Linked DNA regions of Homo sapiens. The protein of the gene in region 1 interacts with the protein of each later gene in a biochemical or structural test. Each region holds a gene or a part of one and is shown in the gene's direction. Other genes may lie near its edges.

Region 1 (3,500 bases):
CCGGGAGGGTCGTGCTGAGGATGGGACCGAGGTGGCCTACATCGAGTATGATGTCAATTCTGACTGTGCACAGCTGCCAGTGGTGAGTTCCAGTATTGCCCCACTTTTCCGCCTCTCTGAGGCCACTGGCCAAGCATTTGCAGCCAAGGAGCTGCCCAGAGAGTCCGAGGGCAGCTGGTGGTAGCACGAGGATGATCAGATCAGCAAATATTAAGTGCTTCCTATGTTGCCTGGGCAGTGGAAGGGTACCTTACCACAAATCTGGCATGCGGGTGGCAGCAGTGTCTGGATGGGCTTGGACCAGGATGCTGGAGGGGTGGCACTTGTGTCGGTGGATTGGGAGGGTGTTTGGGGGTTCTTGGGTAGGGACAGGGACCTAGAATGGAATGAGACCTTTGGTTCTTGAGCAGGAGAGGAAGGTGAGGTCGGGATTGATGAGCTGTAGCCTCAGGATGGATAAAAAAGGGAAGAGAGACTGGGGGCGGGGATGAGATTGTCCCAGGAGGGCCAGCAGAGAAAACACAGTTGTACAGGGAGAGCTACCAGAGCGGCTGGGGGAGGGAATGAGGTTGTCCAGGGACGATGCGGCCGAGGAGGTTATCCAGGGAGGGCCTTCCTGATGCTTCTTGCTGCCTATAGGACACCCTGGATGCTTATCCCTGTGGCTCAGACCACACGCCCAGCCCCATGGCCAGCCGGGTCCCGCTGGAAGCCACACCAATTCTGGAGTGGCCAGGGATTCAGCTAACAGCTGTGGCAGTCACCATGGAAGATGGACACACCATCGCTTTCCTGGGTGATAGTCAAGGGCAGCTGCACAGGGTGAGCCCACAGGAAGTACTGGCCCCTGCCCCAGAGTCTGGAGGGAACAGATTGCTAGGGACCCAGCCTGGTTTAAGCTATCCCTGTGACCCCTGGGCCAGGAGAGATGACCTGAGCTCCTCTCCCCAGGACTGGGTGGTGTTTACCTGTGACTTTCCTCCATCCCCGCTAGGCCAGTTGGTATGACCTGTGACTGCCTAGGAGGAAATTCTATTTGTAAATTACTTCGATTGGGTGGAGGAGGGGAGGGCTTTGGGCCTCTGGCCATGGACTTGGGTCCCAGACCCTGTGGTCTCTGATCCCAGGTCTACTTGGGCCCAGGGAGCGATGGCCACCCATACTCCACACAGAGCATCCAGCAGGGGTCTGCAGTGAGCAGAGACCTCACCTTTGATGGGACCTTTGAGCACCTGTATGTCATGACCCAGAGCACAGTGAGTGCCAGGCACAAGCCAGGGCATGGCTGCTGGGAGGGGCCTCTGGGTGGGGCCAGGGACCCACTTGTGGGTGAGCCACTGGTGTTTGGATTGCTGGCCTCAGGTCCTCTTTGCTGTCTCAGCTTCTGAAGGTTCCTGTGGCTTCCTGTGCTCAGCACCTGGACTGTGCATCTTGCCTTGCTCACAGGGACCCATACTGTGGGTGGTGCGTGCTCCTTGGCAGGTCAGATTTCTGACCCCATCCCAGCCCCAGCCTCAAGCCCACAATGCTCCTGCATAATTGTCCTGTCCAGAATTCCTGACCCTTAGACCATGACTCTCAACCCCTGATCCCCAGACACCCCAATTCCTCACCCCCATCCTCTGCACTGGGCATCAGTGCCCTGCCAGGGCAGACACAGGAGCCTCTATCATGCCCACTCTAGGGCCCTGCCCAGGTCCTCCAGATTGTAGGAGTCCCTACCCTATGAACTCCCAGTGGCCCATGAGGGTCACAGATAGACACTGGTCATCTCGCCCAGGTGCAGTCGCCGTTCTGAGTGCTCGAGGGGCCAGGGCCCAGAGCAGTGGCTATGGAGCTTCCAGCCTGAGCTGGGCTGTCTGCAAGTGGCAGCCATGAGTCCTGCCAACATCAGCCGAGAGGAGACGAGGGAGGTGAATGATCAGATAGGCAGGGCCCTGGTGGGGAGGGCTCTGGGCATCAAGGTCTGGGTAGAGATCTTGGATCCTGATGTCGGACATGCCAGATACCACATGGCCTCACACAAGTCACTTCTTTTAGGAGCTCAGTTTCCCCATCTATTTCTAACTCAGGCCAGAGGGTGTTTGGGGAGGCCTGAGGGCTGTTGATTGCTGGTGCCTGCCCACATTGGGTGTCCCATAAATGTGAGCCCTGGTCTGCTGCCCACTAGCCCCAACAGTGTGTCCCTGGCTCTCTTGGCAGGTTTTCCTATCAGTGCCAGACCTGCCACCCCTGTGGCCAGGGGAGTCATATTCCTGCCACTTTGGGGAACATCAGAGTCCTGCCCTGCTGACTGGTTCTGGTGTGATGTGCCCCTCCCCAGACCCTAGTGAGGCCCCAGTGCTGCCGAGAGGAGCCGGTGGGTGAGAGAATGGGCCAGCCTGGTGGGGGCCAGCCCCTGCTTCAGGGGATGCGGTGGGGTTAAAGTGTGAATCCAGGCAAAGAGCCATGAATGGATGCCTTTCTCTGGGTCCTCCCACTCCCCAACCACCTGAAGCCTCCATTCTGTGCCCTTGGACTGTATTCCCTCATCCCGGGTCCTCTTCCCCATTCAAGGGCTCAGGATATCGGCTCTGGGTCTGAGTGCACCTCCTTGCTGCTTAACCCTGGCCCTCTCTCCCCCTCTGCAGACTACGTATCCGTGAGCGTGGAGCTCAGATTTGGCGCTGTTGTGATCGCCAAAACTTCCCTCTCTTTCTATGACTGTGTGGCGGTCACTGAACTCCGCCCATCTGCGCAGTGAGTTCCTCGCCCTGTCCCCAGGCCTGGGCTTCCCTGTGGCGACCCTTGCCCCATGGCTGTGCTCTGTGCAGGTGCCAGGCCTGTGTGAGCAGCCGCTGGGGGTGTAACTGGTGTGTCTGGCAGCACCTGTGCACCCACAAGGCCTCGTGTGATGCTGGGCCCATGGTTGCAAGCCATCAGGTGAGTGTGACTTTGGGCTGGGCCATACCGGGGGGGTTGGGGGTCCCAGTGTGAGAGTTTTTCTCATGGCCCGGGGTCTGTCTGCCTATGTGAGGCTCTGTCCTGAGCACCAGAGCCGCTGTATGTGACGGACTCCCTGGAGAACAGCCGCCGATACATCCCGCCTGTTTTGGGAGAGGGCATTTGTAGCTGAGAGGCAGGGGATGTCTGGCCTTCATGCCCCACCTCGGCACAGACACCCCTGGAGCCTTCCCCCGCAGTTTTCTCCAGTGGAGAATTAATGGGCTGTTTTTATTTCTCTTTTCCTTGGTCTCCTTTCCTCTTAACATACACTGTGCCTGCCTGCCTCCTGTCCCGCGCCTGCCTGCTGAGTGGCCCTTCCTGTCTTCCTCTGCCTCCCCCTTCAGAGCCCGCTTGTCTCCCCAGACCCTCCTGCAAGAGGTGGACCCAGCCCCTCCCCACCCACAGCCCCCAAAGCCCTGGCCACCCCTGCTCCTGACACCCTTCCCGTGGAGCCTGGGGCTCCCTCCACAGCCACAGCTTCGGACATCTCACCTGGGGCTAGTCCTTCCCTGCTC
Region 2 (3,500 bases), on another chromosome or scaffold:
AGGGGCGCCCTTCCTCATCCCATGTCTGTCCTGTGTCCAGGCTTGCACCTTGTCCCACTGATCTTTGTGTCCTGCACCCCCCTACCCTGGAACCAGCCCCCTCCTGGAGCCTGGCACTTGGTGAAAACTCAGGGAGACAGGTGCCAGGGCTCAGGCACTGGGCTTGCGACGCTTCACAGACTTTGACTTCATTTTCTGATCTTTTGTGGGCAAACCATCTGGACTAGATCCCCCCACCAACCCTCCGAGCCCCATGCCTCATCACCCACCTGTGCTGGGTGTCCCCAAGACCACCACAGGCTGGGTGGTTTGGAGGACTGACAGGACTCAGTGAGCTCACAGCTGAGATTTATTTCAGCAGATGGCTCCAGAGCAGAATCAGCAAAGCGGATGCAGGCTTCCAGAGCCCTCCCCGCAGTCACACAGGACACACTGAACTCCCTGGCAAGGGGCTGTGACAACAGAGAAGTTGTGTCTACCAGGGAAGCTCATAGACACTCAGCCCAAGGTGTTTACTGGGAGTTGGTCATAGGCACCCTCTGCCTGGCAGCTACCAAAATTCCAGACTCCCAGAGGCAAAAGAGGTGTCCAGCCTAGACCACGTTGTTTGCACAAACGGTTTAGGCAAAAGGAACCATGGTTGTCAGTTCGGGTGCTGGGTACCCTCCTGAGATCCACGTTCCCAGATGCCAGAGAGGGCCAGCCTTGCAGGCGGGCCTTTCTGGGTACAGCTGCTAGGCCTGCCCCAGTACCTCTTCTTGCCAGTGTACATGGAGGGTGCCACACCTGGGGTGGGAGGATGGGCTTGGGGATTGAAGCTGAGCCCCATCCTCATGAGCTGTATAGCCTTAAACAAGTTCCTGAACATCTCTGAACCTCCTAATACCCACAGCCCCAGCTGAAAGAGTAACTCTTCCGCTGGATCCTGTGAAGGAGAGATGAGAAATCTCCTAGGCTGGCCCAGTTCAGGGTTCACTCCACTGGCCCCTTCTCCCTTCCTTTCCTTTCCCTTCTGGATCTTTGGATTCTGGACAGGGCATGCAAATTAAAGCTGTTGGGGCAGAGGAGCTGGAGAGGAGGGAACAGGTGAGAGACTGGGAAGGCCAAAGTAGCCATTCAGAGCAGGAGAGCAGATGCGGCCATGTTGGTAGGCAGCCTCTGTGAGGAGGAGGAGGGATCTGCCATTGATAGGAGCTGGGGAAGGAACATGTTTCTGACACCTGGGGATTGATTCAGGCATTTATGACAGTGACAGAAATCAGGAGATGCTGAAGAGCCACTCCAACTGTTTCCTTTCAGTGTCCCTCCCTGGAAGGTGACTCTTGTGGTTATGAAACAGCCTCATGGCTTTGGCCAGAAAAAAAGTCAGCAGCTGAGACAAAGGTGAAGCAGCATGCACTGCAAAGTGGATTCTGTGAGGAAGAAATGAGGTCCAGAGGTTGCAGAAACACTCGAGTTTCTTTTGTGAACAGAGGACAAAAGCATAAAAGACCAGTTGATTAGTTTTTTTGAGCTTTGTGTGCAGTCTTGTTAGGTAGGGGTTGTGGGCAAGATGCTGGCTGGAGATTCCTGTCCAAGGACAAAAAACCATCAAGAGTCATGGGCCTGCCAGAGGCCGAGGGAATTGAAGTCAGGTGGGCTACCTTGGTGTCTTTTGACCCAGGCCCAGGCTGTTTGGGCTCCCTGGGAAGAGCTCATTGAATGACAAACATTGGCCTTGATGCTTTCCTCTTCTGCACAGCAGGAAGGCCAGGCCAGGCCACTCTTGGGCCCATAGGAGAGCACCTCGTTCAGAAGGGACCCTTCTCCAGAGCCACTGGTGGCCTCTCATCCGGGAATGTATGGGTTTCACTATATGGCAAGCCCCTGCTCCAGCAGAGACAGCCCGAGAGCTCACCTGACATCACGCCTCCCTGGGTTCTGCACAGTCCATTTTGGAAGCTGGGACTGAGATGAGGGCAGAGTGACTTTGACTGTAAATCATTACCCTAAAACGCTCTGTTAATTAGGGCCGTGGTTCTCAACCAGTGTGATTTTTGTCCCTCAGGGGACATTTAGCAATGGCTGGAAATAATTTTCATTCTCACACTTGGGAAGAGGGAGGTGCTACTGGCATCTCCTGGGGAGAGGCTTGGAATGCTCCTAACACCTTGCAGTGCACATGACAGCCCTCCACAATAAAGAATGATCCGGCCCCAAATGTCAGGAGAATCAGGGTTGCGAAACCCGAATAATTGGAGTGCCTTTTTTTTTTTTTTCCTTTCTTTTTTTTTGAGACGGAGTTTTGCTCTTGTTGCCCAGGCTGGAGTGCAGTGGCGCAATCTCGGCTCGATGCAACCTCTGCCTTCACAGTTCAAGCGATTCTCCTGCCTCAGCCTCCTGAGTATCTGGGATTACAGGCACCTGCCACCACGCCCAACTATTTATTTTATATTTTTAGTAGAGATGGGGTTTCACCATGTTTGCCAGGCTGGTCTTGAACTCCTGACCTCAGGTGATCTGCCTGCCTCGGCCTCCCAAAGTGCTAGGATTACAGGCTTGAGCCACCATGCCCAGCCCTGGAGTACTTTTCAATGGATTGTCCCAGTAGTGTTCCCTGACGTGGCACTGTCTCCCTCCCGACAGGAAACCATGATGGACCACGCCTTGCGTACCATCTCCTACATCGCCGACATTGGGAACATTGTAGTGCTGATGGCCAGACGCCGCATGCCCCGGTCAGCCTCTCAGGACTGCATCGAGACCACGCCCGGGGCCCAGGAAGGCAAGAAGCAGTATAAGATGATCTGCCATGTGTTCGAGTCGGAGGATGTAAGTAAGCCCTTGCCAGGGCACTCCCCTCCCAAAGTTCACAGCCCAGGGCGGCTCCAGGATCCAGGCGCTGTGGAAACCACCCTCAGGTGGAAAGCCTCCATGCTGTTACTGATGTTTCCAGTGGATCAGTGATCTTTTGCATACTCTTTGGGTTTGCAAAGATAGTGAATACAGTTTTATTCTACTTCTTGAAATAGGTTCTTCAGGAGCTGTTTATAAATTGAGTTGTGGTTAAATATATGAGGGAGCTATTTGAAGAAATCCCTTTACAAAACATTTTCTCTACTAAAAATGAAGTTAATCTTTGCATAACTTTTGTTATTAAAATGCAAATTTTCGCATGGCCCTGGCATGCTGTATAAAGAAAGCACATCTGCACATGAGGCTTAGTTCTGCCTTTGCGTGTGGTCTTCAGAGGAAGTAAAAAGTGATTCTGAAGTATAAGATACCAAAGACTCAGGAAAAGATCACAAGCCCTTTGGCTCCCTCCTTGGCTGGAGAAGAGTGTTGTTTTTAGCCTGGAGGGGGACAGAGGGGCTGAGGAAGGAGCAGCAGGGCCAAGAGGGGAGCTCAGAGAGGAACTGTCCTTCCTGGAGGCTGATCTTACTCACAGACCAGCAGGGGGCGCTGCTGGTGAGCCAGTTTTGTGGCTGTTGCCAGAGTGAAATTTTAAAATATGATCTATG
Region 3 (3,500 bases), on another chromosome or scaffold:
TATCCTTTAAATTTTACTTTTGAGATGCCTATGTTTTCATTGAAGGGTTGAGGATTACTTTAGACAATAACATACCCAAATGAACCCTCATTCACTGTCTCACTTTCTTTTGCACCGGATGTTAAATTTTAACTTCATAGTCCTTGAAACAAGGGCTGGCTCTAAGTGTGTGAGTTTTGGCATTTTAATAAAAATGAATCAGAAGTTAAATTTTGGTTCATAAAGCAAGCGGAGAAACTTGCTTCATGCAGCTTACTTCATGTCGAATTAGAAAGTTTATGCAGAAAACGTTGTGAGGTACAGTGTGCTATTACTGTACAATTTATTAGGCAGAACTGTAGGTTTACATTTAGAATCAGTGTTTTACTTTTTGACATCTGTAAACACCTGCTTGCAGGCAAAAGCATGATTAAGTGGAACACCACAATCCTCTGATCACGGTAAACCATAATAACTCCTTTTGGAAGGCCTACCTGCAACCTGGTGATTGCTTAATGTGTATTGCAGTTACATAATAATATGTATTGTGGTCCTGAAGCCTTATTTGTCATTGTCTTGTGAATACTTTAATTAGCATTGTATTTGCATTCTGTTTGCAAGAACTAATGTTATTTGATTTTTTTTTTTTTTTTTGGTCATTTAAGAGATGTCCTGAAACCAAGAATTTAGACACATCTTGTCCTTGGCTAGCAAGCAGTATTTCCAGTTTGTTGCACACTTGGCTTTTATTAACAATGACAGTTATGTATTTTTTAACGGCTGTGAAATTTGTTTTCATTTGGACCTTACTGCTGGCAGCATGGCTATCTTGTTTTTAAGTTTAGCAATGAAGAAAACACAATATCACCTGTGTTTTGCTTATGTGAAATATATATACAGTATTTAGGTTTGGTATTAAACTACAATATTATTTGACTTTCTAAAGAATAGGTATTTTGCCTAGATTCTATGTGGAAGTGGAAATAAAGGGGATATATGTTGTCAGAAAACATTTTAAAACCTCAGGGTTGGGAGTGAAGAGAACTTGTGTAATTATTGCCTGTATTTAGTTGTGACGTGTTTTAATCTGTGATTGATGCTTCTGATACACATTAAATCTTGTGAATATTTTTTAGTAATAGGGAGTTAGTTGCTAATGAAATACTTTGGGCTGATATTTAGGTTTTTGAACATTGCATTTAATTTTTGTCGTCAATTTTATTAGAAGCACTACATTCCACAGTGGTACTATCACTCTTTAAAAAATTTTAAAAATCAATAATGTGTTTGGATACTACATTTATTATTGTGTTTTTAACTAACAAAGAGATGAGCATGTGTGTCTTAATAGTAATGCTGTTAATCAGCCAAGAAAACCTAACTTTATAGGACAGAAGAAATCAATGTAATGAATTAACAGGAGTCTCTGTTTCATGCTTTATCTAATTAGCCAACTCCACCTTCTCTGAATAAGGCCTTGTGCTTTGTTGAAAAACAATCAGAGATTTCTTGTTCATCTTAAGCATTGCAATTTTATTGTGTTGATATATGATATACATTTAGGCCTCCCCACCCCCAGGATATATTGGAAGCCTCAAAACAAATAAACAGCCCTCTTCAAATAAGAAATTAGGACAGTTCAGTAGAATATGTCTTGGCATTATACAGTAAGGATGGTCCAGATGGTACTCACACGAATTTATATACTTTTATACATCTCAAGGTGTATTTTTAAAACTTGAAATCACTCACTCTGAACCTCTTAAGTGATTTTTGGGGTGTGTGTGTGTGTGTGTGTGTGTGTGTGTGTAGTCCGTGAAGTCTTCTGACACCAATCCTTGAGTAACTTTGCTCACAAAATCACTTTATATAGATTCTTCTGTTGAATCCTCTATGATATTATCACCCCTTTTCATATCCATATAGCTTCATCTTTCAAGGTTTAACTTTTTTTTTAAGCCAAAGAAGAGAAAACTTTCCCTCAGCTTTCTTAACCACATGATTTTTTTTCCATTTCTAACATTTATTTCATTTTTTATCTGTAGTCCATACTCTTGTCCAGTAATAGAATTTTTGTCACTTTATTATTAAACTTTTTACTAATGCAAATGAACTTATTTTTGTTTTGCTTCTTGACCTAGGCTAAGATTATTCTATGACTGAAATGTATTATGGCTGATGAAATACACTTGTTGGTTGATTTTGAAATACTGTAAACAATACAATAAGACATTTTTCTGGGTACGAGTTTGTATGAATCCATGTGTTGACTCTTCCTTCTGGAATGCTGGACAGTTTGCTTTTGCTTTCATCCCAGACTCCCTAGTTCCTTCTCAGGCGCTCTCTCTTCTCCTCCCCTCCTTTCTATCTCCCTCTCTATCTGCCTCTTTTGTAGGGTTTTTCTTCCTCTTCTTGCCCCATTGTTGGTTTTATCCAGAGCCAAGGCCTTTCCATTCCTGTATTCTCTTTCTCACTCCCTGGGTTTTATTTTGCACTCTCCTGTGTGCTGGTGACTCCGTATCTACCCCTCTATCTCAGGCTTTATGGTTGATCTCTAGACCTTTTCAGCCAGTTGCCTATTTACCGAACACTTTTGGGGGATATTCCCCAGGCATTGCAAACTCATCAGATTTCACCGCTACCGCTGACTCTCCCTCTTCCTGTGCACCTTCTTTCGCTGAGTAGCACTACCATCTATTTATTGGTCCAAGTCAAAAACTAGGTCAGCATTCTCACTCTTCCGTCTCGTCATTCCTCATATGCAAAGTCTTGTGGAGTCCACATTCCCAATACCCACTACCCCCACCTGAGTTCAGGTCAGCTGCATCTCACTGATGAACCACAGAAACAGATTCCCTACGGAGTTTCCCAATAACTTAGCCTTGTCCCCTTCCGCAGCTCTGTCCCTACTGTAATCAGAATGATCCTCCTGATGGGCAGATGACCTGAGGTCAGGAGTTGTACACCAGCCTGAGCAACATGGTGAAACCCGGTCCCTACTAAAAATACAAAAATTAGCTGGGCGTGGTGGCGCACACCTGTAGTCCCAACTGTTTGGAGGCTGAGGTATGAGAATCCTTGAACCCGGAAGGCAGAGGTTGCAGGTAGCCAAAATCGCGCCACTGTACTCCAGCTGATCGTTACATTACCTCCTATAAGACAATTTTCTGTCTTCCCATTTCCTTTGAAATAAAATTCAGACCTCTGTGAAGTCTGAAAGGACTTTGGTAATTTGGTCCGCGCTTCTGTCTCACTTGTTACTTCTTTTTGTTCTTCCTAGATTGAACTCCTGTCAGGTCCTTTCTTCTACCCTTCCCTCTACTGTCCCCTGTTCCTCCTCCCTCTGCTCCATGGCTGATTTTTACTCATCATACTGGTCTTTTCTTCAATACTGCTTCCTCAGGAAAGCCTTCCCTGACCCGCAAGACTCTTTCAGTTGCCCCTAGTGTATTCTCTCAAAACACCCTGCACTTTCAGGAATACCAGTTACAAGTTTATCTATATCCCCCTTGGATTGCAGT
Region 4 (3,500 bases), on another chromosome or scaffold:
TCCTATACAAAATTTCTATATTTTGTATAGGTATAGCAATCAGCTGGGGAGGAGACAAGCACTGTTCTTTGTTAATCTTTTGTTTTGGGTTTAGGGCTACATGTGTAGGTTTGTTATTACAGGCAAACTCGTGTCACAGGGGTTGCTATACAGACCATTTCATCACCTAGGTGCTCAGCATAGTGCCCAATAGTTATTTTTCCTGATCCTCTCTCTCCTCCCATCCTCCTCCCTCAAGTAGGCTCTGGTGTGTGTTGTTCCCCTCTTTGTGATCATGGGTTCTCATTATTTAGCTCCCACTTGTAAATGAGAACATGCGGTATTTGATTTTCCTTTTTTTTTTTTGAGATGGAGTCTCACTCTTTCACCCAGGATGGAGTGCAATGGCACGATCTTGGCTTTCTGCAGGCTCCACCTCCTGGGTTCAAGCAATTCTCCTGCCTCAGCCTCCTGAGTAGCTGGGATTACAGGCACGCGCTGCCACACCCGGCTAATTTTTGTATTTTTTAGTAGAGACGGGGTTTCAATATGTTGGCCAGGCTGGTCTGGAACTCCTGAACTCAAGTGATCTGCCCGCCTCAGCCTCCCAAAGTGCTGGGATTACAGGCATGAGCCACTGCACCTGGCCTTTTCTTAAAGCTGAATTTTCGTGGCAAGCTCGCTCTTCTTACTTGATGTGCATGTTCCTGATCAACCTAAAGAGTAAAGTACTTTTTGATGATGCTTTTCTTCATCCTTTAGATAAGAATGAGAGAGCAACAACTGCCTATATTAAAGGAAAATACTATTGTTTTTATCGGGACCAAGCTTGAGGAGCCTGGAGGAAGTAATGGGAGTAGGCTAACATCCCTTCTCCCTAGTTTCCTGAGACCAATGCTGCTTTTTGGTTGGGTGATCCTGTAAACTAACAGCAGACCGCCTGCAAATTCAGGCTCATGATTGCTTCTTCACACTTGAGGGGTGTTGTACAGTTTTCCCTTGTATACAGGAGAACTTCCTGTCACACCAGCCAGCATTTTCTAGGTACTAAATGCAGGCACTGCATTTGCCTTGCCTTCTGAACACTTCTGCATGCATGCTCTCTCACTCTTGTACCTGTACACAGTGCCATGCAGCTCCCCTGTCCAGAAGCTATGGGTGGTGGAAGGTGGCCATGCTGGGGTCTCAGCCCCACACCCTTCATCCTGGGGTTGAAGCCTTCTCAGGGACTGGCCTCAGTACATCTCCAATGCCAGTCTCTGGCTTGCTGTCTGTTGGATTTCCCAGCACCACTGCTCTCCTTTCTGCAGTGGTTCAGCAATCCCTGTGTTTTCTTCCACATCCTCCACTGACAGGAGCAGTCAAACCATCCCATGTGTTGTCAGGAAACACAATGCAGGTGACCAAATCACAATTCAGCATAGTCCAAGGATGGCCTGCTGTGATGGAGGTTGTCAAAAAGCAGTACTCGAGGTCTGCTATTCTCAAACCACAACCTCACATTAGAATTCCAGACAATGAGTTTCCCACAATGGCTGGGAATAAAATGTCCTTTCACTGTGGCACCCCAGCCACCTTTTGGCAATGCTGCCTTCATCATGGTGGGGTTTCCTCATAGCTGGGCCACTGCCAGAGGAAGATGTTTCCTTGGTGATGCTGGCTGGGTCTCCGTGGCAGAGACTTGACTACCATGACTTTCTTCTATCTCTTTAGGCTGCTGTTAAGGCAGCTGGGCTAGATTGGAGATCAGGATCAGACAGATAAAATGTCCATCATGAGCATCTGTCATGGTCTACAATAAATTGAGTTTCCTTTACCAAAAAAGGTCTCCCAGCTCATATGTCTACTAGGCAGGACACCAGTTGCAGCATGGTTTGACTTTTCATTTCAATCGTAAGTCCCATCCTCACCTCTCATGGAGGATGTGGAAGAGAATGAGCCGATGCTTATGACACTGCCAGAAGGACAATGATGACAGAATCTGTGAATGAAAGGGCCAGAAATACAGCATTATGAAACAGTGGCCCTGCCACTCCCTGCTGGATACCTTTAGATTTGAATAACTTCAAATCAAATTCATTAAATCAGATTTATTTAAATTGAATTCATTCAGCATGTGAGTTTGGGCACTTCCCTGAGTGTTAATGAGTCTGTATCAAAAGTAGTAAATCTACTTGTATCCAGGTCTAAAGAAAATCTAACTGTTATTCATTCCTCCCACATATATTTGTGGAGCAGCTAATAATAACATGTTAACAGTAGATACATTTATTGAGGCTCTACCATGTACTAAGCTGTGCGTGTCTGTGTGTGTGTGTGTGTGTGTGTGTATGAGAGCCATATATATATATATATATATGAGGGAATATATATTCTTTCATATATACATATATATTTTTATCTTTCTTAACATATGTAAAATCTTTTCTGTACGTATAATCTCTAAGCCTCACCAACTCTACAATATTATTGATATTGATATTATCTCTACTTTAGATACAGGAAAATTTAGGTTCAGTTATGTTAAGCACCTTGCCCAAGGTTTTTCTACTGATTCACAACCTCACGTTCTTTTCTTTGTTCTATGCCAGGTCACGAGTCAGACACAGGGTGAGCAGGAATCAGTGGCCTAGCTTTCACTCACAGGGGCCTGCAGTTTGGTTATTACCAAGCCTCCCAAAAGGACCTGATACGTTGGTTTTTGGATCACATGGTGGCTGCAGATGTGCTCAGTGGGGTGTCCAGGAGAGGCTGGGTTTAAGACAGTTCCCACATGCTGGCTGTAGCATTTGGGGCAGGACACTTAATAGCTTTGACTCTGTTTTCTCATGTTTGAACTGGGATTACACCTTCCTGGTGGGTTTGCTGAGAAGATGGGAAGATGTCCATATCTTCCTATATGTATATCTAAGGTGCCCATCACATGGCTAGAGCTTAATAAGGGATAGCTGGCCTTATGAACTTCTTTTGAGCCTACGCATTCATAGTTGGGTCACGTAAGCTCTATCTAGGTTTCTAAATCCCATGTAGAATCTTCCCTTTCTCTAATCTAAATGTAACATCTTTCAGGAGGAGCTAAATTCATATTGTACCCGAGCAGCTATAAACGATCACTCTGTCACTGGAGGAAAACGCTGTGCCCACATAGAGATGCCACCAAGAAACCGGCCTTTTTAAGCTGTTGACTTTTTCTTGGCTTGTTTTTATAGGTGTTGGTGGAAATAACCCAGATGAAGAAAAGAATAGCACAGCCAATTCTGGGGTCTCCTCTACAGACATCCTGAGCTTCGGGTACCAGGGAAGTTTGTTGTCACACACACAAGACCAGGACAGAAATACTGAAGAACTAGACATGGCTGGGGTGCAGAGCTTAGTGCCCAGGCTGAGACATCAGCTTTCCTTTCTGCCGTTAAAGGTAATCATCCCTTGGTTTACTTTCTAGATCTGGATGAAAGAGAACAGACTGTGAAGCCCAACAGCCTGGCCCCTAGGCCCTTCCTGTTCTCTGTTTTCCATGTCAG

The links. Proteins that work in one complex are often made in the same cells at the same time.
Region 2: the proteins of PLXNB1 (region 1) and APBA2 interact in a test that uses a peptide from one of them, tested with the Homo sapiens proteins (one large-scale study listed by IntAct).
Region 3: the proteins of PLXNB1 (region 1) and ARHGAP21 interact in a test that uses a peptide from one of them, tested with the Homo sapiens proteins (one large-scale study listed by IntAct).
Region 4: the proteins of PLXNB1 (region 1) and FRMPD2 interact in a test that uses a peptide from one of them, tested with the Homo sapiens proteins (one large-scale study listed by IntAct).

Annotation. Positions count from the first base shown.
Region 1 is NC_000003.12:48,420,087-48,423,586, reverse strand, and holds part of PLXNB1 (plexin-B1 precursor), read left to right. Parts: coding exon 1-82; intron 83-639; coding exon 640-822; intron 823-1,127; coding exon 1,128-1,256; intron 1,257-1,381; coding exon 1,382-1,482; intron 1,483-1,780; coding exon 1,781-1,913; intron 1,914-2,202; coding exon 2,203-2,359; intron 2,360-2,630; coding exon 2,631-2,739; intron 2,740-2,813; coding exon 2,814-2,922; intron 2,923-3,329; coding exon 3,330-3,500. UniProt on the Homo sapiens protein: Receptor for SEMA4D. Plays a role in GABAergic synapse development. Mediates SEMA4A- and SEMA4D-dependent inhibitory synapse development. Plays a role in RHOA activation and subsequent changes of the actin cytoskeleton.
Region 2 is NC_000015.10:29,098,974-29,102,473, forward strand, and holds part of APBA2 (amyloid-beta A4 precursor protein-binding family A member 2), read left to right. Parts: intron 1-2,625; coding exon 2,626-2,811; intron 2,812-3,500. UniProt on the Homo sapiens protein: Putative function in synaptic vesicle exocytosis by binding to STXBP1, an essential component of the synaptic vesicle exocytotic machinery. May modulate processing of the amyloid-beta precursor protein (APP) and hence formation of APP-beta.
Region 3 is NC_000010.11:24,717,388-24,720,887, reverse strand, and holds part of ARHGAP21 (rho GTPase-activating protein 21), read left to right. Parts: intron 1-3,500. UniProt on the Homo sapiens protein: Functions as a GTPase-activating protein (GAP) for RHOA and CDC42. Downstream partner of ARF1 which may control Golgi apparatus structure and function. Also required for CTNNA1 recruitment to adherens junctions.
Region 4 is NC_000010.11:48,180,697-48,184,196, reverse strand, and holds part of FRMPD2 (FERM and PDZ domain-containing protein 2), read left to right. Parts: intron 1-3,188; coding exon 3,189-3,394; intron 3,395-3,500.